4 linked regions of the Homo sapiens genome follow. The protein of the gene in region 4 interacts with the protein of the main gene of each other region in a pairwise test. Each region holds a gene or a part of one and is shown on either strand. Other genes may lie near its edges. The genes, in order: C14orf180, PEX16, VAPB and ZDHHC15.

Region 1 (7,023 bases), on a different chromosome or scaffold from region 4:
AACCACCGGGTGGATGGTCGGCCGTGCCCACCCGCCTCAGGCTAACCTCGAGGACGCTGGTCTGATTGTCCCTGTGTCTCTCCTGGGCAGTTCTGCCTGGTGTCTAACCGTGGGCCTCCCTGCTTTGTTCAGCCCTCCCCCCACGTAGGGTCTGGAGAGGCCCCTGGTGTTTGTCATCCACAGGGCTCCCTTCAGCTCTGCAATCCGGCGACAAAGCCACAACCACAGACGGTCTCCGGGACCCACAGGCCCCAGCTGGTGGGTGGTGCTGGCTGGCCCCGGGCTCAGCTGGGTGTGCCTGGCCTGCAGAGCTGGGCACAGATGGCTGTTCTGAAGGTCGGGGGTGTCTGGGCCCCTTGCTGTCCCCTCGGCTTCTACACCTGAAGCCGCCCCTGATGAGGGGTCCTTCCCTGGGGCCTCTCCAGACTCACGGGGCTGGGTAGGGGGGTCAGACCTGGGCTCAGAGGATGGCACCTCACATCAAAGGGACCCACCTTGACAACCAGACCCTTCCCTCCCCGTGGGGTTTCGAGGTCTGGATTCCCCACAAGCCATAATCGCAAAAGGCTGGGTTTGCCTCCTCCGAGCAGCCCCTTGAACACGGGCAGTGTGTCCCCCTCCTCAAGAGGGTGCACACGGTGATGGCCGGGCCAGGCCCTAGCAGCAGCAGGAGTTCCTGCTGGGACGAGGGAGGGGTCTTTGGGTGAGCCTGGGGAGCCTCAACTGTTAGCAGTCGAATCCTCTTTCTAATAAAATCTCACATGGACCCAACACAGGAGACAGGAGGGCTGTGCTGACTAGTGTGGCGGGGCCGCCTGCTGTGCCCCCCATGTCCGATCTCACGCCACGGGGTCCCCCTTTTCCTAGTTAGCCCTCAGGCAGCAGCCCCTTTTGGCCCCCATGATTCACCAAGCAGCAGGGCCAGGGCTCAGGCTGTCTCGGAGCCCCCGGAGTGCTTGAGCTCTCCTGGAAGCCCTGCCCGTCCTGCCCGTCCTGCCCGTCAGAGCCGCAGGAGGCCGCGCCAGCAGGTGAGGGCCACGTGCCGCAGGTGCAGGACAAGGCCGAGGAGCCGGGCCCGCAGGTCCTCCAGTGCCGTTGCCACGGGCTTGGCCCGGCCGCAGTATAGGCCCAGGGCCAGCACGAGCAGGACGCACACACACAGCTGCAGGAGCAGGGAGCCGCCGTGTGGCCTGGGCCGGCCGGGCACTGCGGCCAGAGGGCAGGCAGGGTCAGCGCCAGCCAGCGCGACCCTTCCCTGGAGGACTGGGGCTGGTGGGGAAGGGATGGGGAGATTCCACCCTGTCCATGCCCATGGCCCCTCCCTAGCCTCTTGGGGTCTCCTTGCAACAAGAGCTCCCCAACTGGGGACTCCTTAGAGGCCCTGGCCCTGTGACACCTCCCTCGGGGAGGGAGTGAGGGTGGGTGCACCCACGGAGGGGGCAGTGGGGCACAGGGATGTGGGCTCAGAACTCACCCCTGACAGTGGCTGTGGCGTTCTTGTCAGCAATGTCTGCGAAAGAGAATGGAGAGTCAGCTGGGGGCACCTGCCTCAGTCCATCGGGCGCCCCCGCCCTCTCGTCTCACCCTGCACCCCCGAAGGACCCTGAGACTATTCATCAGTGAGAGACCCAGGCCCAGCCGGTCCTGACACTTCCTCAAAGGGACAGTCATGATTTGAGAATCCGCCCTCATGTTCTCCTCCAGTTGCTGTTTCATGGACCGGGACTGTGTGTCCAGATGACCCCAGGGGCCCAGGTCTTACAGGGGTTGTGGCACTGAAGGCAGGTGGCCACGGCCCCCCCATGTCCTGGGCCCTGCCAGAGCTGTGTGGGTGTGGCCGGTGTCCCCGCCTCCCTCTGCTTGACTCCACCCTCTCCCAGCTGCTTGCTGCGGGTGCCCTCTTACAGTGGACGGTCACCGCTGGGGGTTCTCGGAACCACACGCGCCTCGAGGTCCTCTGGGGCTTGGCCTCTGGGCGGTGGTGCTCCGGCCGGCTCCGTTTCAGGATGGAGGGGGGGCACTTCCTGTTGTCCTCCTGGTGTGGGGGCGGGAAGCAGACTGGTGAGTCCCCGGCGGGAGGCCGCTGGTACCCAGGTCTGAGCCATGTGGGGCCCAGCAGCACCGTCCTGGAACCTGTACCCTGTCCTGGCTGGTGCGCTATGCTGGGCCTGTCACTTCCTGTAGGGTGAGGGGCAGCTCCTGGACAGGGACTGCAGGGCAGCCAGACTCAGCCTCAGGGGCCCAGGCAAGACAGGAGCCCCTCCTGACCCCGTCTCTTCACGCAAGTCCCCACTGAACCTCTCTTCGTCTGCCCGCTGTCTCGGATGCAGGCTGCTGGACAGGGTCCCCAGGACATGTGGACAGGGGGAGGGGGCTGCAATGGCAGAGGGGCTCTGGCTAAGGGGCCAGAGTTTGCAAGCTCTATGGGGCAGGGGCCGGGCCAGGGCCGTGAGGAGGGCTGGTTGGTGGCCTCGGCCTCCTTTTCCCTGGGGCCGAGCCTCCCAGGCTGCAGGCGGGGGCAGCTCCTACACATTTGCCTACCTGGGCCCTTTCTCTGCTGGTCTGCTCACGTGTATGGGCCCAGCCTGAGTCTGGAAGATGGAGTGGGAGTTTCGGGCTGCTGTGAACCTCAGCATCCTTGTCTGTGACATGGTGACAACTGGGGCTGAGGCACCCTGGGAGCCGGGCCAGCTCTGAGGTTGTTCCTGGCTGGGGCATTGCTCGCTGTACACAGCCTGCTGCTCGGCATCTGGCGAGGCTGCCCCGCGAGGGCGTGAGGCCTGCCCATGCTGAGTCTGGCCCAGCTCCTGCTGTGCCTGTGGCATGCCCCAGCCTGGCAGTGCCTCAGAGGCTGGATGGAGCCTCAGGGTCTGAGGTCTGGGCCCCTAACCCTAACACTGACCCTTGGTGACAGTCTTGACCTGTCCTCTCTCCACCCTCTTCCCTCCTCCAACACCCTCCTCCCTGAGCTGCCTCTTCCACAGCCCTCCATGGCTCCCACTTCCTCTGCCAAGCTGTGCCCCACCTGGGGGCCTCCAATCTCCTCTGCCAGACCAAATCCTTCAAGGCACCCATTGCCCCCCGCTGCTCCCCCCAGCCCTCAGTGATCCCCCTGCCCTCCTCCTATCACCCCCTGATTCCTGGGGTGGAGGATGGCCTTTCCACGTCTGTTGCTCCCTGCCCCCTCCAGCCCCCAGTGGAAGGCCAGCTTGCAGAAGCTGTGTCCCAGCGGCCCGCCTTACCCTCTCTGCCCTGCACACCCGCGGGCCCCACGCGGCCTCCTCATTCTTTCTGGTCTGACGTCGTGTCTCTGGCCGGGAGTCAGGGCTCACGGCTCCTGCTGCAGTCCTCATTTACTGGAACATGGTCCTAAGATAAGCAGAGACGTTATTTATTATTTACTGCACAAGTGGCACTCAGAGGAATGAAAATAAGAGGAGGAGAAAATTCTTTCCTGGAAGCCAGGCTGGCTTCCCGGGCTTGCGACCGGCCACGCTGTTGAGCAGACACCACTTTTCCTCTGTGGTGTCCCCAGTGCAGGTAAATCCTGTTCCCTGCTCGTTCAGAAATGCCATCGCAAGCAATTTCCTTTGCTGCCACGGTCTTCATAATTATCATCTTTAATGGCTGCATAATATTCCACTGGGCCGAGGTCCCGTCACTGAAAGTCACCCTCGATGATTGGGTATTCATGAGGGTTGCATTTTAGTATTGTCATTTGCAATGTTTGGAGGTCATGGATAAGGCTGCAAGAAACATCTTTGCTTTGTCTCCTTTCGGTAGCGGGAAGCCCTGGGGCTGGGGACTGGGAATTGTCAGGGCTCTGAGACCGGGTCCACAGAAAGGCTTCCCAGAGGGTCATGCCCACCTTTTTGGGCTGGTGCTGGTGGGGCGCCCCTGGGCTCCTGGGGGCCCACCCCTCAGCACGGCTCACACTCTCTCTCTGTGTCTCTCTCTGCACCGCGCCCCCGCCGATTCTGTGTCTCTATCTCTCTGTCTCCATCTCTCTGTCCCCCTGCCTCTCTCTGATTCTGTCTCTATCTTTCTATGTCTCTCTCTCTGTCTCCATCTCTGTCTCCCTGCCTCTCTCTAATTCTGTCTCTATCTCCCTGTTTCTGTCTCTGTCCCCCTTCCTCTCTCTGATTCTCTCTCTATCTCTCTACCTCTATCTCTGTCTCTCTGTCCCCTCCTCTGTTGCGCTGGTTGCTTCCTGGCTGTGAATGGCGCCTCCTCGCCTCCACCCCCGTGTCTTTGGCGGCAGAGGCTGTGCTCTCCTCATTCGTGCTCACCGGTGGAGCCCCCCAAGTGTGAATTTTCTCTCACAGCCTTGGCAGGGTTCTTGACTTTTGGGCACTCCTCCCTACAGAGGGGTGCAGTGCCTACCAGGCATCTGTGCAGGTGCAGGTGTCTGCCTTTCAAGGGCTCTGGGGGTGATGAGCCTGCCTCTCTTGCTTCAGGTCGGGAAACTGAGGCCAGAGGGGGCTGGGGCTTCCCTGGGAGCTGATGCCAGGCCAGGTCCTCCCTGCCCTGCTCCCAGCTGGATAGGGGGCAGTGTGGGGACCTCCTGCTGCCCTTCAGGTTCTCCCCTGCCCTGGGGTCCTTGGAGGGTACTGCCGCCCCTGCCCCTCACAGGGCAGGTGTTTGCATTTCCTGAGATGCTTCCCTGGCTCCCCGTGGTCCTCCAAGGACCCTGCCCCCAAGGGCTGAGAAGGGGGAGGGTGAGAGTGAGGGGCCTACATGGTCCTCAAGGATAACTCCTCCAGGGTCCCCCAAAGGGATGGGTGCCTCAGAGGTTCAGGGCAGGCCTGTGGGAGGAGTGGTTTGGGTGGATACTGCAGTGACTCCAGCAGCCGTGTGCCGTCCTCTACAGGAGATAACAGGGTGGCCATGACCACCTCCCCAAGTGGGCATAAATACTGCAGACAAGCAGAGTGCCCTGTTAATGATGTCTGGGAGGACACTGTCTGGACGGGTTCAATTATTTCAAAAGAGAGCAATTTTCTGCTATCGCCGGATCAGGTTTTTATTGCAAATAGGGTTGTGGCAGGAGCCGGCCATCCAGGGGGGTGGCGGGGAGGGGCGGCTTATCTTCAGGACCTGCTCTCAGAGAGTGGCTGTGGGAGAGGTTGTGCTTGCAGGCCCAGCTGAGCTGGGGCCCCGTCTCCTGGGGCCAGGTCACCTGGAATGTGGGCTCTGCGTGATCCCCAGGGTTAGGGAAGCCACAGAGTGCCAGGCCTGTCCTGGTGTTTTGGGGATGCTGCCTGGCAGGGCAACCTTGACTGCCTGTCCGTAGCAGGGCTGGGGCTGGAAGGGCTCTCTGGATGCCATTGACTCAGTTTCCACCCTGGGTGGGATAGAAACTCTGCTAAAGCCCAGGGTGGGGTTGGGGGTGGAGCAGAGCCCCCCAGTGACCTCTTGGACCCAGAGCCCGGGCTCTCCCACTGCCCGGCGGAAGGAGGCTTGTGCATTCGGGGTCATTTCCTGGGGCTGCACGGCCTGGGGCTGGCTGGCGTGCCCAGGGCCACAGCCCCTTGCCAGGCGACCCTGCAGCAGCATTCCAGGGGGCCCAGCCAGGTTCACTCCTCATGGGGAAACAGGCCTGGAGAGGCTTGGGCCGACGGAGTCACGCAGGGATGCAGGGCTGGACGCAGTCTCCCCCAGCTCCTGCCAGCAGCTCTCGCTATTCACCCCTCCTTGGCCTGGGGTCTGTCCAAGGGATGGTGGGAAAACAGTGTGTGTGTGCACGTGTGTGAGTGCACACATGTGTGAGTATTCCCCTGAGTGTGCAAGTGTGAGAGTGGGCACGTGTGTCAGAGGGCATGAGTGTGCACGTGTGGGGTGTCTGTGTGTGTGAATGTGTGCATGGAGGTGTGGCTATGTGTGCATATGTGTACTTGTATTTCTGTGCGTGCATGTGAATATGCATGTGTGTGTGTGTCCATGCATGTGCCCGTGTGTGTGTGTGAGTGTATCTGCGTATGTGTGGGTGAATGTGTGTGTGTTTGTGTAGAGTGTATGTGAATGTGCAGGCGTAGGCAGTGTGTTTGTGAGGGTGCCTGGCTGTGGCATTAACCATCTGTTGCTGAGCAGCATAACTTGGGGAGGACGCGACTTCGCCTTCTGGGGCACAGAGTTCTGCCGGAATGTGGACAGTCAGGACTTCCTACGGGACAGCACCTCCCCCTCTTCAGGTGTGGGCTCCAGAGCACCTTGTGTGACCACGTGTGACCTTAGGCAAGTCTCCTAATCTGCCTGGGCGTTGGTCTGCTCAGCTGTGAAATGGGGGTGAGGAGAGCAGCAGCCTCTGCGGGCTCGCGTGAGGGTGGGAGTCAGTGCACAGACCCGAGTCCGCACCAAGCCTGTGCTCTGTGCCATCAGCCACTGTTGGCATCACTCGGGGAGGGAATGTGCCCAGGAACAGAGCTCAGGTGGCTCTGGCTGTGTCTGGACAGTCAGGACATCCTATGGGATGACACCTCCCCTCCGGGAGCCCTGGGGCCCTCTCCAGAGATGCACCTTCCCCTGGGCCACGCTCTGCTCCCAGGCAGCCTCCCTGAGCCCTGAGGTCCCCTCTCCAGAGATGCACCTTCACGTGGGCCACGCTCTGCTCCCAGGCAGCCTCCCTGAGCTCCGCGGTCCCCTCTCCAGAGATGCACCTTCACGTGGGCCATGCTCTGCTCCCAGACAGCCTCCCTGAGCCCTGCCATCCCCTCCCTAACTGGGCTTCACGCTTCCCCTTCTGGAAGAGAGGTCTGGCTCAAGTCCTGGGCTCTGTCCTTCTTTGGCTCTGTGACCTCGGGTAAGTGGTGTGACCTCCCTGGGCCTCATTTTCCCCAGTGGAAGCAGGGAAGGAGTGGCTCTGGCATGCTCGGCAGGTGGGGGCGGGGAGGCCTGGGGCCTCTGGCAGGGACAGTGTGTAACTGGAGGCCTCGTGACAGATGGGAGATAAAGGGCGGAAAATAGCTTCAGAGCCTGGACCTGTAAGTGTCCCGCTAGGCCCGCTGCTGGGGAGGGCGCGTCCAC
Region 2 (7,917 bases), on a different chromosome or scaffold from region 4:
CCCGTCCACAGAGGAAAGCACTCTGCAGCCCTCCCTAGCCTGGGGAAAGCTCAGCATAGCTGTGGCCAGAGCCAGCCTCCCGGAACCCATGGACAGGCAAGGCAGGGAAGGCCCAGCCTGACCACATCTATGGAGACCACAGCACCAGAGGGGCCGTCTCCTCTCAATCCTTTGCCTTCAAAACAATCATGATGAGAGGCAATGAACGGCCCCAACTCAATGTCCAGAGAGTGAGGCCCAGAAGCTGACGGGATGGGCCCAAAGCCCTGAAGGGACAGATGTGGTGCGTGCCCTGCCTCCTGCCTCTAGAGGCTATGGTTCTGGACACAGAACCAGGCTCAGAGTCGAGGTTGGCGGCATCCCATCTGTTCCCTCTTCCTGCAGGCTACAAAAATGAATGACTCTGGCCATGACAAGTACTGGGTTCGTGTTCTGATTTTGTCCCTAGCCGCATCATTGTCTTCTCTGTCGAATACATGGCAATGAGAACACATAGTTGATAGGGACAGGCGTGCTCCATAAACAGATACTACTGTATTCATGCTGGTTGGATCTAAATCCTCAAGTTAGTCCCATGGCCCATTCCGCTCCAGGGCTTGGGGAAGTAGCTCACCCGGGGGCTGTGCCTGGGTCTCTCTGTCCAGTGGAACGATAGGGGGTGAAGTCTGGAGGCCAGCCTTGAACCAGAGCAGCAGGAGCATCCGCAGTACAGCCCTGGGTCGGGGAGTATGTCAGGGTTGTGGGGAGGTGGCTAGCCGGCGGGAGGCCAGGGATGCTCTGCTGAGCACCATCTGTGTAGCTAGCCTGCGTCACCCCCACCCAGGACCCTCTCCACAATCCCAACCTACTTGGCCAGCTGGACGAGGGCGATGACAAGCCAGCGGCCCACTTCACCCCACACCTTGGCAGCTCCCATCTCCATGAACACCTCCACGCACTCCAGCACGCTCAGCCATGTCAGCAGCTTCTGCTGGGACAGCGACTGCAAGAACCCCAGGCCAAGAAGTCAGGGGGCCTGGGACTACAGGGAGTCCCAGGCCCTTCTCCTAGGAGGGAGCTTCTCTGACAAGAGATGTGGACCTTCCCCTTTCCAAGCCTAACTGTGCAGGTGTGAGTTCAAACACCAACTCCACCATTAACAGGCTGGGGGACCTGAAACAGCTGACTCTACCTCTCTTCACCTGAGACAGTCTCTTCATCTAAGATGGGAATACTCACACTTTACAGGTCACCTAATGAGATGGTTTGAGGCTCAGATGGACATAGGCCTGTCTCATACTCCATGAGACATGTGCTGCACGCATGGGCTAGCTGCTACTATTTCATTCCTGAGTCCCCATGCTTCCCACCCTGTTCTTGGCAGAATTCTCACCACAGGCAACTTTTTCCGAAGCTCCTTCCGTAGGATCCCGTCATTGAGCAGCACAAGCAGGTTAGAGGCAGAGTACACTGAGGGGTAGAGAGTGGCCTTGAGAGGCTGGCTCTGCAGCCTCCATCCCTCTCACCTTCTCCCCAGAGCTGCAGGGATCACCTGTCACATGCTCTGCTCAGACACCCACAGACTATGTGGAAACCAACCTTCTTCTCCACCCACTTCCTCAGCACTCCCCTCTCCCCAACATGATCTCACAAGGGTGGCTGGACCAAGAAAGGATGGGTCAATCTCAGTGACAAGCCAGTTACTGCCCTGCTGGATGGCACTGGTCATCCAGCTGCCCACAACTGCCCATCGCTCTCTGAACTGCCACAGATACACGGTCCCACCTCCTGGCCCTTTCTCTCTTGGCAGCCTGTTCCTGAGGGTCTATTCCACCTCCACTTTTCTTTTTTCTGAGTCGGAGTTTCACTCTTGTTGCCCAGGCTGGAGTGCAATGGCACAATCTCGGCTCACTGCAACCTCTGCCTCCCAGGTTCAAGCAATTCTCCTGCCTCAGCCTCTCAAGTAGCTGGGACTACAGGCACCTGCTACCATGCCCAGCTAATTTTTGTATTTTTAGTAGAGATGGGGTTTCACCATGTTGGCCAGGCTGGTCTCGAACTCCTGACCTCACGTGATCCACCTGCCTCTGCCTCCCAAAGTGCTGGGATTACAAGTGTGAGCCACTGCACCTGGCCTCACCTCTGCTTTTCAAAACCCAGTGCATTCTTTCAGGACTGTGACAGCAGTCACTGGGCAAACACTCTTGAGGTAGTTACAATCTGGGAATCCTGGAATCTGGGAGATCTAGACTTGAATCTTGGTTCTGGGACCATCAGTGACTGTTCTCTAACCTCACTGAGCTTCTTCCTTAAATGGACAGTGATGACAATAAGTACCACTTAATATGACTGTAGGGAGGATTAACAAGTAAAGGTAAGAAAGGCACTTAGTCCAGCGCCTGGCCAGTAGTGAATACTCAGATAAGGTCCCCAGACGTGTCTCTTGACTTAGGGACATGGAGGGCCCAGGACAATGAACAACAGACCTTGTGCCGATTCAGTCATAGCACAAGGTGTCTAACGGGCAGCCCAGGTCCTCGGGCTGGGGTGCTCACCCTCTCTGGGGAACTCACCAGGGGCCAGGCAGCCGATCCCCCATCCCCCACCCCCAGAGCCCGGCTCACCCAGCTCTGACAGCTCGTGCGAATCGGCGAATCGACCTGGGGAGAGGGTACAGAAGGAGGTGTGAGTGAGCATCTGCCTCACATTTCGTCTTCGGGTCCCGGAAATCCCCTCCCTACGCCCTTTGGGAACCTGGACGGGTCTTCTCAAGCACAGCGATCACTACCCTGACTCCGCAGGGAAGGGGGCCACTGGGGTCATAGGTCAGGGCCCAGAAGGAACTGATCAAAGGTCAGGGTGGCACCTGCCAGCAGGTAACTGAAGCCCCGCACTGCTGTCTCCAGCTGGGCCGTGGCGGCCGGGTGACGAGTCACGTACTCCTGGTAGCGGAGGCCCAGGAGCCGCAGCTTCTCCATCCTGCCCTCGGCACCGACAGACCCACAGAAGGACCGTACGACAGGCTGCGGCGCCCTGCTTCCTGCGCCCTCCTTCCTGCTTCCGGTCTTAGGCCCGCCTCTTGGTTGCTTAACTTCCGCGGGCCAGAAGGCTGAGGACTTGAAGAACCGGTGAACCACCCTTCACCCCATCTCTTGAACCGCTTCCCACTCGGGTAGCCCTTAGCAACTGAGGGCCCAAACCCGGCCCCCTACTCCCTCAAGTCATTGGTTAGCACGCTCTCCGCCCCTGACCCGCCCAGCGCCGTCAGCACCCAGCTCTTCCGTTTACCGGGTTGGCTGCCCTTGCGCCTGCGCAGTTAAAGCTCCGGTAAAGCCGGGCGGCAGTCAGAGCAGTTCATTCTAGAGAAGGGAGCTGGAGCCCCGAGTCTTTCCAATGGAACGCCGAGAGACTCGAACGGCAGGGCCGGATTTTAAAGGGCTGAGAGATAGCGGGTGCTTGAAAAAAGGAGCCTCGATCAGATTTGGGGAGGTGCGGGGCGTCTAAATACAGTTGCACTGTGTCTCAGCAGGCGCGCGTTCGGCCAGTATCCCCATCTCCGTTTCCTCAACAAAGGTAGTGCTGGGGAAACTGAGGCAGTAAGGAGTCCAGCCCTCTAGTGCCGTCTCGATCCCCTAGACAGCACAGTTAGTGCTCCGGCTTCGGCCTCAGCTCCCGTATGGACTGTGCCCCCCAAAGGGCTCGCGCCTGCATTCCCACATACGCGAAGAAAGCCCTGGCCCGGGCTTCTCTCGGCTCGGTGGCCCTTGGGCGGGAGTATCCCTTCTCTGGGTCTCGGATTTCCCGATCTGTAAAATGGTTTGAGGGCAGACTTGATCCTTGAACTCAGAATCGATCTCAGCTTTCTGGCCCTCGGACGCACCTCGCAGTCCTCAGCTGCGCCCCCAAGGGAAGGGGAGACCCCTGGGGAGTATCTTCCCAAACCAAGCAGCCTCCCTGGAACGGGTGGCACCGGGAGATCTGCGGCGAGTGGTGGAGGGAACGGGCGCTCTGGGGAGGTAGCGCTGATTGGCTGCGGGGAAAGGGGCGTGACATGGGTGGAGCCGTGGGCCAGTGGCCTGAGGGAGCGGGCCAGCGGATTTATGGTACCCTGAGAATAGTAATACATTATTTTACCTAATCCTCTCCACCAGATATCTCCAGATGAAGAAAGCATCCTTTTAAGAACGCCCAGCCAAAATTTGAGTGTTGGTCTTTTCTGACCTCAGAGACTAGGCGGTTTTTTTTAATTCATTTTTTTTAACTTTAATTTTATTTTTAGAGACCAGGTCTAAGCATCACACCTCACCAGGAAACCACAACCTTCCTTCCACTCCCTCACTCCACCCTACTCCACAGCTTAGTTTTCTTCTCTATCAGGTGGGGGATTAAAGCTGCCCTCTTCTCACATCAAAGAACGAAGACCCAGGGAAAGGTGACCAGGGGCCTGAGGAGAGGCAAAGGTCTTGGAGAACAGAGGAGGTGGTCATGGGCATCGTCGACATCATTTCTGGCCACGCTCTGGGTTCCAGGCTTGCTTGCCCTCCTCCCAGCAGCCCCAAGTTGCTATGAACTGTTCACAGATGGGAAATTAGGGCCCAATAAGGAGGGGAAAGGATTTGTCCCACATGGCACAGCAAGGCACTGGCCAAAGAGGCCACAGCGCAGGTCTCCAGTGGCAGTGCCCTCTCTCCTACTGCCCACAGCCCACAAAAGCTGTGACATGTTGAGGCTCCTTGGTCATAAGGCCAGTTAGCAACTGGGATTAGGACCTAGGCTCAGGGCCCTCAAGGTGAGGCTCCTTCTCCCTTCCTCTGCCCCACCTTGTTTTTTGTTTGTTTGTTTGTTTGTTTTTGAGACGGAGTCTCACTGTCGCCCAGGCTGGAGTGCAATGGTGCAATCTCAGCTCACTGCAAACTTTGCCTCCCAGGTTCAAGCAATTCTCCTGCCTCAGCCTCCCGATTAGCTGGGCCTACAGGCGCCCGCCACCACGCCTGACTAATTTTTGTATTTTTAGTAGAGACGAGGTTTCGCCATGTTGGCCAGGCTGGTCTCGAACTTCTGACCTCAGGTGATCCGCTTACCTCAGCCTCCTAAAGTGCTGGGATTATAGGTGTGAGCCACTGAGCCCTGCAGGGCCCTGCTGTGCACCAACACCTTAGTGAACTTGTTCCTCAAACCTCCAGTTTGGCCACTCCTCCAGCCCTCCCTCTGCAGCTGTGGAGAGGGTACAGAGAGAGAATTTGAGGTTCTTCAGCACTCCTTGGGCTGGAGGTCCTGATTCTGAGAGCAAGGTGTGGAGGGGAGAGGGGCAGACTCCCCAGGACAGAATAGGAAGGGGCTTGGGCTGGAACCAGTTTCTTCTCCCTCCCTGCAGAACTGGGAAGGGGAGCATGGGTCTAGCCAGCTTGGCAGCAGCAGGGCTGCCTGAATTTCCTCTCTAGATCCCAGGCCGGATTAGGGCCCAGAGACAAAGAGTTGCGGTGTGTGCAGGAGGCCCCTCCCCTGCTCCCTGGCCCCCTGCCTGGGCTTGGCCGTCTTTGTTGGGCTGGAAGGACCTTTGGGCAGATTGAGCCGTATCCTCTCTCCTTCAGTTTGCCCCAAGTCACAGGGGAAGAGAGGTAGACCAGTCCAACATTTACCTACGAGAGTACCAGAGGCCCAGAGATGGAGCCTCACTCGTCTAATAGGGTCACACAGCAAAGTCCTGGGCAGAGCTGGGTCAAAATGGGTCTTAGGCCAAGAGGAACAGCACCTGTTTATATGCCCATACGTGTCCCTCTTTCTCCCTCCACGCCCCCAGAACAACCCCTTGGGGGCCTAGCAGGTATCTCAGCACTTCAGTTTCCCTGAGTGGTGAGGTTGAGCCAGAAGAAGGGCCAACATTGTGAGTGACTACAGTGAGATCTGCAGACCCAGCTTCCTGCACTGACTCCCCCAGCCCCTTTATTGAAGACTCATCCTGGGCCAGCACCCAACTATGGATCCCATATGGTGTTTGTTTGTTTTTAGAGACAAGGTCTCACTCTGTCACCCAGGCTGGAGTGCAGTGGTGTGATTACAACTCACAGCAGGCTTGACCTCCTGGGTTCAGGTAGTCCTCCTACCTCAGCCTCCCAAGTACTAGGCACATGCCACCACGCCCAGCAATTTTTGTATTTTTTGCAGTCATACAGTTTGGCCGCATTGAGCAGGCTAGTCTCAAATTCCTGGGCTCAAGCAATCCACCTGCCTTGGCCTTCCAAAGTGCTGGGATTACAGGCATAAGCCACTGTTCTGGCCTGGTCTCACATGTTTAACCCCCACAAACCGTCTCTGTTGAGGGTCCTGGAGAGGGAATCACATTTCCCCACCCCAGCTTTAGGCTACAGATGAAGATCAGGGAGGCTGGAGGCTCAAGCTCCAGACGCCTGAGTGGCCAGTGCATGGCCCTTCTCAATTTCTGGGTGCACAAGGAGCCACCATCAGTCTCCATAGCAACCATTATCCCTGCCCTCCAGAGACCCAAAGCCTGACCTTCCCCATCTCCCAGAGAAAGGGGGTCTCAGGTTGGGCTGCTTTCCACAGCTTCTTTTGAGTTTGCCTCACTTTTTGCAGCCAGAAGTTGGGCAAATGACACAGCCTGAGCCCCCTTTCCAGGTCATGGGAGGGGAGATTCTCATTCCAATCCACTTTCAACAGGTATTGAGCACTTGGTATGTGCAGGCCCTGGTTGGGCACTGGGGACTGGACAGACAAGGTTCCAGTCCGGTGAGCAGCTTACATTCTGGGAGGGAGACCTGCAATAAACAAGCAAACAACTTCAACTTTCCATGAGTGCTAGCCAGCCCTGGGAGGCTCCGCTGCCAGAAGGAACGTCAAGGGCAAGTCCTGGGGCGGGAGACCCTTCCGGAGGAGGAGCAAGAAAGCTGCTTCTGCAGCGCAGAGCCTGGGGAACGGAGTGGGGCCGCTTGAGACGGGAGGGGCCGGAGGGTGTTCTTGTCTAACAGGTCACTTAAACTCTCCGGGGGAGAATTAGCCCGCATCATGGGATTAATCGAGGGTGATTAAATCCTTAGCACAGGGCCTGGCACGCTGTGCTGGTTTAGGGTCCAGAGCGCCCCCCACCCATTCCCTGGCCTGCTATGGGGTGCGCGGGGGAGAGGGAGGAAAGACGAGCTCCAGGCCGGTGCGCCCGGGCACAATCACGACGATCTGGACAAGAGTGGGGATCCCCGGCCCTGCCCAGGCAGCCTAGGCCGCCCGCGTCTGGGGCCCCTCGCCAGCTCCCGGGCGGGAGGCGGCCTTCACAAGGGCGCTTTGTCCTGGCGGCGCCGGCAGGGCCCGGCCGGGCCACCTGGACTGAGAGTGGGGGAGTGAGGCGAAGGCTTCAGGTGCTCCGCGGCTCTGGCGCAGGTGTCGGCCGGCTCCGCCCCTGTCCCCAGAGCAGGTGTCCCAGACCCTGCGGCCTGCATTCCGGCCCCCTCCTCCTCCCTCGTGTCGAGCTCCCGCAGTGTCTTTGATCCCGGGCCCGGGGACACTGGCCCCTCCCCTTGGGGAGTGAGGGGAGGAGACGCGGCCCCAGAGCGGGGGCAGGGCAGGGGGTCAGGGCAGGTAGCGGGGCCCGGGCCTTCGCGGGTGGCTGCTCCCGCTCCCCCAGCCCTCCCCTCGTCCTGGTGGGAAACTCAGCCCAGAAGGGGGCTTCGGGGGCTCCTCGCGGGCTGGGGAACCGTCGGATGCCGGCCCAAGGGGCGGGGCCAGGACCCCGGGGGGGTCACCCCGCCCCTTCGCGCTCAGCCCCGCTGAGGTGAAACCTGAGCCCAGGTCGGGGGCGGGACCGGCCCGCGCCTCTCCCCTGGTTCCCGCACCCTGGCCGGCGGCTGCGAGCGCAGGGCCCAGCCCGGGAGCCGCTGGAGCAGGTGAGGGAGGTGGCTCGGCGCGAGCCGCACAACCCGGCCGTCG
Region 3 (7,023 bases), on a different chromosome or scaffold from region 4:
TTAGAAGGAATGACATGGCTGTTAGTGGCTTTGTAAGTGCATAGTACTATACAGAGATTAGACAACCACTTAACTACTTAAGTGGTTTCATCACTTCTGTACCTGAAAGGTGTGGCAGAGAATAGCGATCATTCTGGCCCTGGATTGGCCAAAGTAATTATGCCAAAGTCACTGGATATTTTTGCTAGGGAAGTGGTCCAAGAGAAGTGGTACCAAATTGTTGAAGGCCTCTGGCTCATAACTTTAGAAGAGACATCTGTGTGTGTTCTTAAATGACGTCATGAGGTGTGTTGTTTGTTTGTTTTAAACTGAATGCTAAGACAGTACAATTAATAGAGACTGAATACCCTGACTTAGAGATAATTCATTTCAGGATGAGAAATGGCACATTTAACTGGTTTCTTCCAGGTTACTCAGGGTGACGACTCTGATTTCTGGTCGTTCACCTAGATGAACCTCTGAGCTAACTTTACTTGAGAAGGTAATAACTAAAATGCCCATTCAAAGGAAAAATTATCTTTTAAATGCAGCCTAAGTTGATCGTATGGGATTGTATATTGTCAGACTCTTTAATCTTGGGAATTTTGTGTGGTATGTTAAATTTAAGGATGTTACAGAAGAAAAAGAATGCAAATTTATATGACTTTATGCAGTTTTATAGGAAGTACTATGCTGCATCATAAATATCAAAAGGAGAAAGCCTGGTGGCTTCCTGAAAGAAGCATGACACAGGAGGATTTGCCTAGACTTAAGGTTGACTTTCATGAGATATTTTTAGTAAGTGAACATTAAGCTCTTTCAGACTAGGGGTATCTTTCTGAGAGAGTAAATGTTTTTGTTTTTTGGCAGGGTCTTGCTCTGTCACCCAGGCTGGAGGGCAGTGGTGCCATCATAGCTCACTGTAGCCTCAAACTCCTGGGCTCAAGAGATCCTCCTGCTTTAGGTTCCCTGGTAGCTAGGACTACAGATGCCACCATTCCTGGCTAATTTTTAAATTTTTTTGTAAAGATAGAGTCTTGCCATGTTGCCCAGGCTGGTCTTGAATTCCTGGCCTCAAGCAGTCCTCCCGCCTCAGCCTTCCAAAGTGCTGGGATTACAGGCATGAGCCACTGCATGCAGCCTAAGTGTGTGTTTTCTTTTATATTTCTTTTTGTCTTTTTCACTAAGTCATAGGAGTTTTTTAAAATTGTCACTCTTTCTGTTGATCTCAGTTCTTCCAAGTCCTAATCGTTTCCTTGCCATCTCCTCACTCTGAGATCCCACTTGTTGTCCAGCTCAAAGAGAGCTTTCCGAATGAGTCACTTTCAAGGCATTATATAGCACTCTTCTTTCATTCCCTTCTCCCTCCCCTTCCATGAGAGTCCATCTGTGGTAAATAGTATGTCATATATTTTTTGGTCGTTCAGGACTCTAGATCATTCCTTACATCCTAGCCCATTCCCCCAGCAATGATACTGTCACATGGAAATGGTCTGTTGAACATCCATCCTCACTAGGTTAAGGTTTGTTTTGTTTTGTTTTGTTTTGTTTTGTTTTTTTTGAGATGGAGTTTGGCTCTTGTTGCTCAGGCTGGAGTGCAATGGCGCGATCTTGGCTCACCGCAACCTCCGCCTCCCGGGTTCAAGCACTTCTCCTGCCTCAGCCTCCCGAGTAGCTGGGATTACAGGCATGCGCCACCATGCCCGGCTAATTTTGTACTTTCAATAGAGACAGGGTTTCTCCCTGTTGGTCAGGCTGGTCTCGAACTCCCGACCTCAGGTGATCCACCCACCTCGGCCTCCCAAAGTGCTGGGATGATAGGTGTGCGCCACTGCACCCAGCCGGTTAAGGTTTAAACATAACTGTGGATGCATTTACTTTTGCTTTATTGCTTGACTGAACCAATGACCTTCAAGAAGTCTTAGATAGTCCTGCCATTAGTAGGGATCTCAGATGGGAGGGCACCAATGAATCAGTGTAGTTGAGTACCACTTTTGGGAGAAAATAGAAACTTGGACACTCTAAATGATAGTTTAAGGACGTTGTTTGTTTTGTTTTGTTTTTTGTATGGGAAAAGTTGGCTTAGACTCTTTAGTTCAGCCCTTCAAGTTGATGTGTAATTTAAGATTGTTTAGGAAGTTAAAAAATCTAAAGCCCTGTGGATATAGTTCATTCAGTGCAGTAATTATCTTTCAGATGCCAAGTACAGCATTAATTCTTTAGCTTTAGCATGGCACTGATTTTCTTAACACTTCATGATCACGTGGAGCAGACTGTGCTTTACAGCACAACAGAGCGTCAGCCATGTGCTGAAGATTCTTCGTGGTAGTGGTTTAGATCCACCCTGAATAGATTATCTTCATTTATTTAATTATTAAGTAGCTTGCTTATCAAAAGCGGCATTAAACTTACTAAACTTGAGTCAAACGTAAATCTTCATAGATAGTACCATTTACTTCTGAAATCTTGTTCCTGGGAGAAAAATGTGGACTGGAAGTTAACTTTCTTTTATCCACCTATTCACTCCTTTTTCTTCACAGTTAACTCCTTAGGGGAAAAAATGTATAGTTCTTGACCATGTGCTTATGTTTGTAAAGCAATGATGTTTCCTTAACGTGAGTGGTTGTGACATAGATCACTGTTATCTTCATAATTACCTGGGAGCTTTTCATCCAAGTGTGGATTTACTAAAATAATTAGTCTGAATTGATGCTTATTAAAGAGCTGAACTCTTAAACGTTAACACTATCTTGTATTTATTAAAATTGTATGCATGTTTCCTTCAAATGCTGAAGGCAGAATACTGAGAACTTTGACCCTGTGTTATTATCGCTAAGTAGTTGAAAATTAGGGGAGGAGTCAAGGGAGTATATTATATTGGTTATCACTCAAATACTACCCCTAGGCATGATTTTTAGAACCGAAACTTGAATTTTTACATAAAGAATTATCTCCAAAAGTGTCTTTTTTTTTTTTTTTTTTGAGATGGAGTCTTGCTCTGTTGCCAGGCTGGAGTGCAATGGCACTATCTCGGCTCACTGCAACCTCCGCCTCCTGGGTTCAAACGATTCTCCTGCCTCAGCCTCCCGAGTAGCTGGGACTACAGGCACATGCCACCATGCCTAGCTAATTTTTGTATTTTTAATAGAGACGGGGTTTCACCATGTTGGCCAGATGGTCTCGATCTCTTGACCTCGTGATCCGCCCACCTCGGCCTCCCAAAGTGCTGGGATTACAGACATGAGCCTCTGCGCCAGGCCAAGAGTGTCTTATATATCCCCACTTTTTTGAAAAATTTGCTGTCTAAAGGATGATCATGATTTGGGACGAATGAGCACAGCTTTCAACTAGATGACAAGAAAGATGAATACAAAGAGTGCTGAGTTCCATTAGTCAAGACAAGGTTGCCATAGAATGTCTTTAATAAAATAAAACAAAAGCCTTTTGCGTTATTTTGCACCGAGGATTGTGTTAAAAACAAAGTTGCATTATGGTTTCCAGATTGGCATCCTTGTTTTTTTCTATCATTTTAGGCCCCTTTCAGGCTGTTATCAGCATAGCATATCCAGGATTGCTTTGGCCTTGCTCAGTGGGTATGTGCGTTCTTTGAAGTTCTTACCTGACAGATGTGGGCAGCTGGCTTTACACAAGGAAGAGTTGTTTAAAGAGCTTTGGTATGGAAACAAAGTTACTAAACTTGACAGTCACTTGAGGATTATTTAAAAAACAAACAAAATAACTGAATGTGGTAAAATACTATCTCTAGAATATTTTTCAAACTGTTAAATGCATCCTTTTAACAGAAGCTGTTGATGTCTACAAACACTGTCTTTGTAGACAAAGACAAACCCCCCTTGCATGGGGGTTTGGGGGTTGGGAAGCAGTTGAGAAAATGGCATAGTCCCGTGAGAAAACCTTGGAATACTTTCTTTTAATAACATTTTTTTATTGCATAGAACTGTAAAGCTACAGAAATGCTTTCTTGGAGTTTTCCTTCATCCTTTCAGAAGGGCTAATATTGACCTTTGGTTAGCATGTTAGTATTTTCACCTGTGTCAAGTGATGTCTTCACGCTTTTGGGGGGTGTGTGTGTGCATGCCCACCTCGTGTTGTGTAGGGCACATTGGCCGATACCTATAATGTGTTTCAATTACTACATTGTTGGCATTTCAGTAGGCTCCTTCAGCCTTTGCCCATCTGGGAAGTGGAGACTAGGGCAATAAATGTTTTAGGGGTAGATTGAGACTGCAGTGTTTTTCATCTTTTAGCTTGTACTTTAAGACAATGGGATGTACCCCTAGACCATTTACCTAGATTTAAATTACTTCCTTGTGATGTGGTTTAGAGCTCTAAGTTCCTTGAGTTGTCTTGAAAGGCTGAAGGGTGCTCAGAGAATGGAGGGGAATTGAAAATGGAACCTAAGGATCTGGGAGTGGTCATATGTGTGAGTGGTGAAATGTGCCCCCCAACACCCCGTTGGGTCGGGTCTGGAGTTAAAAGCAGTGGCTGACATACATTTTGCAATATAAGGGTAAAGAAAGGTAAAGAAGGAACAAACATTTCTAGAGGATAAATGCTTTAATTCCAGAAGATAGGCCACACAGTTTAGGAACTGTGGTAAGAGGTGCTTTGCCATATTTATGTTACTGTTTAATCTGTGTAACAATCGTATGAGATGACTTAGTCAGTGGCTAGGTAACTTTCTGCTGGATGAGGCTGCACTAGTAAATGGTGGCACAGGCAAAGCCTTGTACTTTCCCTCATACCAGTATCAGCTCATTAGAGTTAACTCATAAAGGGGTTTGTTCTTGAGAGAGGGAGGCAGAGAATTTAAAACCATTAATGAAGTATTAATAGCTGTCAGGACAATTTCTTAAGAACATCAATTCATTAAGAGTTATTCTCTGAATTTTTTAGGAGGGATTTCTTGCCCTACTTTTGAAAAAGTTCAGACAGATGACTCCAAAGAATGTTTGATTTCTCTTGTGAATATTCACTTTTATATCAGATTCTGATGGTTTCTTGATTCTATATATTTAGAAAGCATTCGGCCGGGCATGGTGGCTCATGCCTGTAATCCCAGCACGTTGGGAGGCTGAGGCAGGCAGATCAACTGAGGTCAGGAGTTCGAGACCAGCCTGACCAACATGGAGAAACCCCATCTCTACTAAAAATACAAAATTAGCCGGGCATGGTAGCGCATGCCTGTAATCCCAGCTACTTGGGAGGCTGAGGCAGGAGAATCGCTTGAACCTGGAAGACGGAGGTTGCGGTGAGCCGAGATCCCGCCATCGCACTCCAGCCTGGGCAACAAGAGCAAAACTCTGTCTCAAAAAAAAAAAAAAACAAAACACATTAACTTGTGGGTAATTTGTCCTTCTGCTATCCAGTCTTTGGAAGGCAGGGCAAAGCTTGTGTGTGGTAGAGATTTCATAGGCTTGCAGGTTTGTAGAGTGGGAATTCAAGAAGTTGTAAAGGGCACTTATTAAGATAGGAATGTCTAAAATAAATGATCTTTAGCAGTGCCACCTTAAACTTTGTAAGTGTTGCTACAAAACCTTTAGTTCTGCATGCTCCTGACCAGCCATTGCCTTGGACAGAGAAACAAATAAGGGTGAGTTAATAAACTAGAGACTTGTCTCAATTGTTCAAAGAGGTAAACTTAAGGTGATTAAAAAGTGCTGTTTTATTCTGTATGAGATACACTTTGGGAAGTCGTCATTTTCCAAGACGATGATACGCCAGGCATACGAATTGGATCAGAAAGGATTTAGAGACATGCATGGATATAATGATCTCTTACAGATGTTCCTCACCTTACAGCGGAGTTACATCCTCAGAAACCCATTGTCAGTTGAAAATATTATAAGTTGAAAACATATTAGATACAGCTTAACCTACCCAACATCATAGCCTTGTCTACCTTAAACATACTCAGAACCCTTAAGTTAGCCTCCAGTTGCACAAAGTCATCTAGCACAAAGCCTATTGTATGATAAAGTATTGAATATCTCATGTACTGCATATTACTAGCCTGGGAAGAGATCAAAATTCAAAATATGTCAAAATTATGATGGCTTCACACCATTGTAAAATTGAAAAATCGCAAGTCAAACCAATCGGGGATTGTCTGTACATAAGAGATGATTGTCCAAATTAGAGCTGTTTTGGGTTTCTGCCCTTTGCAGATCCTTTGAGGTTTTCTTTATAGACAGATGACTCCTTCTGGGGGAATTGAGCGTGACTCTGATTGAGATTTGGTTCAGTTACCACATACTGAAAGCTTCCTGTGGGCCAGGCACTAGGTTGCACTGGGGACCTGGGAGGAAGGCCTAGCCCTTAAAGTTTCCAGCCTCTAGGTATTGGGAGACGAGGGAAAATGGGGACAAGATATTTATGGCCTGTCCTTATTGAGAGCTTAGAAAAAGCTGTGTTAATTCTGCTTTGGGTGTTCGATCTCACAGGGAAGATGGCATTTGAGATATGTGACTTGGCGAGCTTACACTGTGCGCTTGCCATTTTTCTAAGCGTTCATTTATTTAATTCTTAATGCAAGCCTAGGAAGTGGGTACAGTTATGATCCTGAAGTTATTAACCCAAGTTATGAACCTGACTGAGGGTTGGAGCTGGGATTTGAATCAAGATCTGTCTGATTGCAAAGGCTATGGCTTTTTTTTTTTTTGTCGTCATGCTGGCTGTGTTTCTTCCCTTAAAAGATAAGTGGGAGTGTGCCCTTGGCTTTCTTATTTATTATGTTAGGAAGATGAGAGGAGGAGTGAGACTAGAGAAAGAGGCTTGAAAGAGAAATGGGATAGAAAAATAAAGGAAAAGGCTGGGCACAGTGGCTCACACCTGTAATCCCAGCACTTTGGGAGTCTGAGGTGGGTGGATCACCTGAGGTCAGGAGTTCGAGACCAGCGTGACCAACATAGTGAAACCCCATCTCTACTAAAAATACAAAAGTTAGCCGGGCGTGGTGGTGCATGCCTGTAATCCAGGTACTGGGGAGGCTGAGGCAGGAGAACCGCTTCAGCTGGGGAGGTG
Region 4 (7,023 bases):
CCCGCCTCAGCCTCCCAAAGTGCTGGGATTACAAGCGTGAGCTACAGCGCCCGGCCATACAAGCACATTTATACTAAATGAAATGTTATATTTTGGGCTAGGAATAAAAATTCCACTTGATTCCTAAAAGAAATTAACTTAAATACACACATGTAATTTCAACTTACAGCACCTTTCCTAGGAATCTAAGTTGTTAAAAATGTAAGAACTGTTTGTCTATGACAGTTATGCACAGAAAATGGGAGCAACTGAAGTTAACATAGAATCAACCTAACAAATAACACAGCATGAGAACTTGCATTAGATACTAGAATGGGTTACAAAGGAGGATTGTGGAGTCTCCTTCAATGAACTTAAAAAAAACCCCTCAGCTATCTAAGATGGCATAGTGGTCTTGCTAAAGCTAAAGGCACCTTACAGTTTATGATTTTATGATTATGTAAGAAGCAGTTGAATGCTTCAGATCACTAAATGGCATGCAATCACAGCACTGTGTCTCATATGTACTTGTCCAAAGGAGAGACCTAGCATTGTAGTGGAAAAAAACTAGGATTTGGAATCAAGATACCTTGACATGTGAGATTAACATCTCTCAATTTTAGTTTCTTAATTATAAAATAGGGATGCTATTAATAACACTGCCTATCTAACCTGAAAGTTGTGAGGGTCAAAGGATATGAAGAAAAAATATAGGAAAGCACTTTGTAAACTATAAAATAACATACTAATTTTTAATGATTGAATATTTTTGAAAAGGTCTGGAATTGGAGACTGCTTCAAAATATAACCTCTTTATGATGTGATGCTATATCTACATTTAAAGTATTCCACTTGCCAACACAAAGCTCAGCTATGAATAGCTTTTTTCATTGTGAATTATTTCAAACCAGGTAAAGACCTGATAATTATTTGGCTTCTATTAGAGTTTGGGTTTAATACCAAAATAAGAGTTGTTATAACTTGTGACTGCTGTAAGTAAAAGTCAGTTCAGAAAGACTGAAGACTGAAGGAAGACAGGTCAAAATATAGTCAATTTTCCAATAGTCAGCAGGAGGAAGTAAGGGAGTTGCCCTTGTAAGTTCTTTGGGATGGACAATAACTGTTTTCTTTTTTATCTATGGATTTGTGGCTGTTTTGTATTCCTTGGGCCTAGTAACATGCTTTTCTCTAAAACTAGATTTCCTGGTAATCAGGGCCTGGATAATCCAACTGGGTAAAAAATTAGAAAGGCTTGTTCTCTACCGCTGCTCCCACTTCAATACTTTTCCATGTCTTCATTTAGCCTCCTTCACCCCAGGTACAGTTTGTGATAGCTACTACAAGTTCCTACTCAAAATTGCTGCCAGCTACTGCATTATTGGGAACAGTAGCCAAAACTACTTTCTAATGGTTGGTATTAGCAACATAAGTAAATGTTGGAGACACAAAAGTAGGCACAGCAACAGGTGGAGACAAGGAATAGGGCTGGCAATGGGGATACATTATATGAGAACTCAACTTTTAGCTCTTTACAAAATGCCTTAGGATGACCCAGTGACCTGGTAGGAGAAAGTTGAAGCTTATTTTCCTTTGCCCCTCTTCCTTTTAGAAAAGTAGACTACATGCATGTGTAGGCTTGCCCCATTACTATCTTTTAGTTTTTAGTGTATTGAAACCATTCTAAAAAGAGAGTGAGTATAGGATTTTAAAGAAAATTTAACCAATGTGAATGAAAGAGGATGGAGAAAGGTGCAATGTTGCCCATTGATTAAATTGAACTCCACATTCAAGCAAAGTACTACAAGTGACTACCCAGCAGGATTGTTTAGAAATCCATATATATCCAGATGTATATCTGACTGGTAATATAAATCACAGAATCACAAAGCTGGTAAGGAGCCTCCCAAGCTGCAATCTAATCTTATCTAAACTACCCATGGTTACTAAACAAATATGGCCATACTTGCTCTCCACCATCCAGAGGACACTTATGAGGTTGACATGCTTATAAAATCTTTCTGGACACTATTTACTCACCACATTACATTGGTTGTATTAATGTGGACTTCATAGTCTTTGACCCCACTTACCTTGGTTGTCATCCTCGTTGTCTTCCCAGGTTTCTTCATTTGCTAGCAGTGGGTTCTGTGACTCATTCATAGACCTCATAGGGAAGGAGTGTCCATCACCAGGGCTGATGGGAAAAGAAAGGCAGTGACCTATTGCAGCTGACATAGACTTTTGTGAAGGTTATAATCCTCTTAAAAACAAGAGGGGGGTTCTTAGCCATATTTAGTCTCATTGTCTAAAGCCATGGTGGAATGGGCTCTTACAATAGCATTATTTAGTTGCTATATTGCTCTCGATTTCCATATCTTATTTGTGTGTCTGCATCAGTGTTAACTTCTTGTTTGTAAGAACTCTATAGTTTGCTTCCCAAAATGCCCAGTATGGCAATATGCACACACAGCAAGCTTCATACATATCACTTAATGATGATGATACCAATTTATATCCAATTATCTCACTGCTTTGATTCTAAGTTTTCAAGAAAGATGACCAGTCTCTGAAACACTAAATACAGTGGAGATAAGCTGGTGTGAATTGGTGAAAGACAATGCGCAAATGCACTGTTATTTATTTGGTGTGCATGGCAGAAAGGTTATTAGGAACTAGGGGAAAGAGCCAGAGTGAGCCATCTCTAGACTGCAGATTTTCAGGGCAATTATCCACATGTGGGGTCTCGCTTTGTGGCTACCTGTGGTAAGCTAGGGTCAACTCCTTGGGTAATTTCTGGCCACTAACAGATGGGATGCATTGGAGGGAACTGAGCTGGCCCTGGCTAGAAGAGGCTACAGTTTGAACATTTCAGTTTAGGTATCTGAATGCATTCCACATTTGAGTCTGAATGACTTTTGATGTTACCTATGCCTTTTCTCCTGTTCATGTATGTGGTAAATTGAAATTTGACAGATTTTATTGATAGCACTCTAAAGAGAATGTAAGTGTACTGATTATAAATGAATGGGCTTTGATTTTTGGTTTTGTTCTTTATTCCAGAGAAGACTGATTTTACATCTCCCTTTGATGTGGTGATGATGTGTGGATATTTGTGTATGTGAGTATGTGAATAGGGTATAGGTAATATCTGGTAACAGTTATTAATCAATATTACCCACTGACATAGTTTTGCCTTGTGATTTATAGACAGGTTAGTTGGATACACCACATCTCTGAAATACATGAGTCTTTAAAATACTAACTGCTACACAGGAAGTATCAAGGCAATCAATCAAGGAGAAATTTTTCCATAATTACCACCCTACCCCCAACAAAGTTACCTCAACTAAGTGAACATGAGTGTATTCCTGTCTAAGGAGGGGACTGAAAAGTGGCTGCAAGAAGGCTATAAGCAAGCTCTGCTCTAGAACTAGTTTAGTTGATGGTGGTTCAATCTGGTTCACAAAGTCATTCAGAGAACACAAGCTTGACTGTTTATTTCTCATCCACTACTTTCCCTGCATAATTGTTGCAGTTCTAAGAATGACCTACAACCGCAAATTAAACTATACTACAAGGCTACAGTAACAAAAATAGCATGGTACTGATATGAAGACAGATATATAGGCCAATGGAACAGAACAGAGGCCTCAGAAATAACGTCACAAATCTACAACCATCTGACCTTTGACAAAAACAAGCAATGGGGAAAGGATTCCCTATTTAACAAATGGTGTTGGGAAAACTGGCTAGCCATATGCAGAAAGCTGAAACTGGATACCTTCCTTACACGTTATACAAAAATTAACTCAAGATGGATTAAAGATTTAAATGTAAGACATAAAACCATAAAAACCTTAGAAGAAAACCTAGGCAATACCATTCAGGACATAGACATGGGCAAAGACTTCATGAACAAAACATCAAAAGCAATGGCAACAAAAGCCAAAATTGGCAAATGGGATTTGATTATACTAAAGAGTTTCTACACAGCAAAAGAAACTCTCATTAGAGTGAAGAGGCAACCTATAGAATGGGAGAAAATTTTTGCAATCTATCCATCTGACAAAGGGCTAATATCCAGAATCTACAAATAACTTAAACATATTTACAAGAGAAAAACAAACAACCCCATCAAAAGAAACTACCATCAGAGTGAACAGACAATCTACAGAATGGGAGAGAATTTTTGCAATCTACTCATCTGACAAAGGGCTAATATCCAGAATCTACAATGAACTCAAACAAATTTACAAGAAAAAAACAAACAACCCCATCAAAAAGTGGGCGAAGGATATGAACAGACACTTCTCAAAAGAAGACATTTATACAGCCAAAAGACACATGAAAAAATGGTCATCATCACTGGCCATCAGAGAAATGCAAATCAAAACCACAATGAGTACCATCTCACACCAGTTAGAATGGCGATCATGAAAAAGTCAGGAAACAACAGATGCTGGAGAGGATGTGGAGAAATAGGAACACTTTTATACTGTTGGTGGGACTGTAAACTAGTTCAACCATTGTGGAAGTCAGTGTGGCAATTCCTCAGGGATCTAGAACTAGAAATACCATTTGACCCAGCCATCCCATTACTGGGTATGTACCCAAGGGATTATAAAACATGCTGCTATAAAGACACATGCACACGTATGTTTACTGCGGCACTATTCACAATAGCAAAGACTTGGAACCAAGCCAAATGTACAACAATGATAGACTGGATTAAGAAAATGTGACACATATACACCATGGAATACTATGCAGTCATAAAAAATGATGAGTTCATGTCCTTTGTAGGGACATGGATGAAGCTGGAAACCATCATTCTCGGCAAACTATCACAAGGACAAAAAACCAAATACCGCATGTTCTCACTTATAGGCGGGAATTGAACAATGAGAACACATGGACACAGGAAGGGGAACATCACACACTGGGGTCTGTTGTGGGGTGGGGGGAGGGGGGAGGGATAGCATTAGGAGATATACCTAATGCTAAATGATGAGTTAATGGGTGCAGCACACCAACATGGCACATGTATACATATGTAACAAACCTGCACGTTGTGCCCATGTACCTTAAAGCTTAAAGTATAATAAAAAAAAGAAAAAACCAAACAACCCCATCAAAAAGTGGGCAAAGGATATGAACAGACACTTCCCAAAATAAGACATTTATGTGGCCAACAAACATATTAAAAAAAGCCCATTATCACCGGTCATTAGAGAAATGCAAATCAAAACCACAATGAGACACCATCTCATGCCAGTTAGAATGGCAATCATTAAAAAGTCAGGAAACAACAGATGCTGGTGAGGATGTGGAGAAATGGGAACGCTTTTATACTGTTGGTGGGAGTGTAAATTAGTTCAACCACTGTGGAAGACTGTGTGGCAATTCCTCGAGGATCTAGAACTAGAAATACCATTTGACCCAGCCATCCCATTACTGGGTATATACCCATCGGATTATAAATCATTCTACTATAAAGACACATGCACACGTATGTTTATTACAGCACTGTTCACAATAGCAAAGACTTGGAACCAACCCAAATGCCCATCAATGATAGACTGGATAAAGAAAATGTGGCACATATACACCATGGAATACTATGCAACCATCAAAAAAATGAGTTCATGTCCTTTACAGGGACATGGATGAAGCTAGAAACCATCATTCTCAGCAAACTAATACAAGAACAGAAAACCAAACACCGCATGTTCTCACTCATAAGTGGGAGTTGATCAATGAGAACACATGGACATAGGGAGGGGAACATCACACACCAGGGACTGTCCTGGGGTGGGGAGCTAGGGGAGGGATAGCATTAGGAGAAATACCTAATGTAGATGATGGGTTGATATGCAGCAAACCATCATGGCACGTGCATACCTATGTAACAAACCTGCATGTTCTGCACATGTACCCCAGAACTTAAAGTATAATAAAAAAAGAATTACCTACAACCTCAAATTAATCTTTGTTCTTGCTTTTCATATTTTTATTCATAAAATAATATTAGTATTAACCACAAAATATATAAAATGGAGAAAATATAAATAATTTCTAAGACTATTGCCCTTACCATTTTTAACATTTTTTGGTGTATTTCTCTTCTGCTGCTTCTCTTCTATATATATTTATGTTTTTAATCACAGTGTATTGAATTTTTCGTTTTTCACTTAAAATATAGTACCATTTTTACCATTTTTTGGTATATTTCTCTTCTGCTGTTTTTCTTCTATATATACTTATGTTTTTAATCACAGTGTATTGGATTTTTCTTTTTTCACTTAAAATATAGTAAGCACTTTCCCTTTTTGTGACATAGTCTTTATAACCATTACTTTTGATTGTATAATATTCCATCCAGTATGTGTGTATATATATATATTATATATATATAATATATATATAATATATATATAATATATATTATATATATATATTCCCATATTGTTGGCTGTTTAGGTTGTTTCCTAATTATTGGCTATAAATAATGCTGTGATGAACATTTTTGTGCATAGTTTGTCTCTGTCTTTAGGGTAGATTCAATTCCCAGAAATGGAATTACTGGGATGTTGGGCAAGTAGATTCTTAAATTTTTTGATAGATATTACCAAATTCAGTTATAAAAGATTGGTAGTGCCACTGCACACTGCCACAAAGAAAGCATGAGAATATCTATTTTATCAGACCCTCACCTCTTTATTTGCCTTTATTAACCTAGAAATGAAGAACTTGGGGAATAGAGTTTCACACTGGACTGATACCTGCTGCATACTACAATCAAAATTGAATTTGCTGGTTCAAGGCAGGGTCCAGTACTAACTTCTTCCAGTGGTAATATTTACTCACCTGGAACCAATAGGTATTAACCAGAACTTCTTCTTATCTCCAAACACCTGCTGGATATTCTTGATGAAGCCAAGGTTGAACCCATTTTTCTCTGGGCCACTTGTAAACACTGGAGTGCAGAAGGCCTCTAAGGCAGGGCAGGAGAGTTGAAGAAAAGAGGAAGAAAGCAATAAAGAA

Evidence for each region.
Region 1: the proteins of ZDHHC15 (region 4) and C14orf180 interact in binary tests that used the Homo sapiens proteins (3 or more experiments, as listed by UniProt).
Region 2: the proteins of ZDHHC15 (region 4) and PEX16 interact in binary tests that used the Homo sapiens proteins (3 or more experiments, as listed by UniProt).
Region 3: the proteins of ZDHHC15 (region 4) and VAPB interact in binary tests that used the Homo sapiens proteins (3 or more experiments, as listed by UniProt).

Annotation. Positions count from the first base shown.
Region 1 is NC_000014.9:104,582,761-104,589,783, reverse strand, and holds part of C14orf180 (nutritionally-regulated adipose and cardiac enriched protein homolog), read right to left. Parts: intron 3,370-7,023; 5' UTR 3,354-3,369; coding exon 3,243-3,353; intron 2,036-3,242; coding exon 1,906-2,035; intron 1,511-1,905; coding exon 1,475-1,510; intron 1,207-1,474; coding exon 1,001-1,206; coding exon of another isoform or gene 906-1,000; 3' UTR 1-905.
Region 2 is NC_000011.10:45,914,855-45,922,771, forward strand, and holds the start of PEX16 (peroxisomal biogenesis factor 16), read right to left. Parts: upstream 3,024-7,917; 5' UTR 2,958-3,023; coding exon 2,846-2,957; intron 2,640-2,845; coding exon 2,604-2,639; intron 2,288-2,603; exon of another isoform or gene 2,145-2,287; coding exon of another isoform or gene 2,120-2,144; intron 1,450-2,119; coding exon 1,373-1,449; intron 983-1,372; coding exon 849-982; intron 715-848; coding exon 614-714; intron 1-613. UniProt on the Homo sapiens protein: Required for peroxisome membrane biogenesis. May play a role in early stages of peroxisome assembly. Can recruit other peroxisomal proteins, such as PEX3 and PMP34, to de novo peroxisomes derived from the endoplasmic reticulum (ER).
Region 3 is NC_000020.11:58,392,210-58,399,232, forward strand, and holds part of VAPB (vesicle-associated membrane protein-associated protein B/C), read left to right. Parts: intron 1-7,023. UniProt on the Homo sapiens protein: Endoplasmic reticulum (ER)-anchored protein that mediates the formation of contact sites between the ER and endosomes via interaction with FFAT motif-containing proteins such as STARD3 or WDR44.
Region 4 is NC_000023.11:75,415,018-75,422,040, forward strand, and holds part of ZDHHC15 (palmitoyltransferase ZDHHC15), read right to left. Parts: intron 6,974-7,023; coding exon 6,847-6,973; intron 2,174-6,846; coding exon 2,070-2,173; intron 1-2,069. UniProt on the Homo sapiens protein: Palmitoyltransferase that catalyzes the addition of palmitate onto various protein substrates.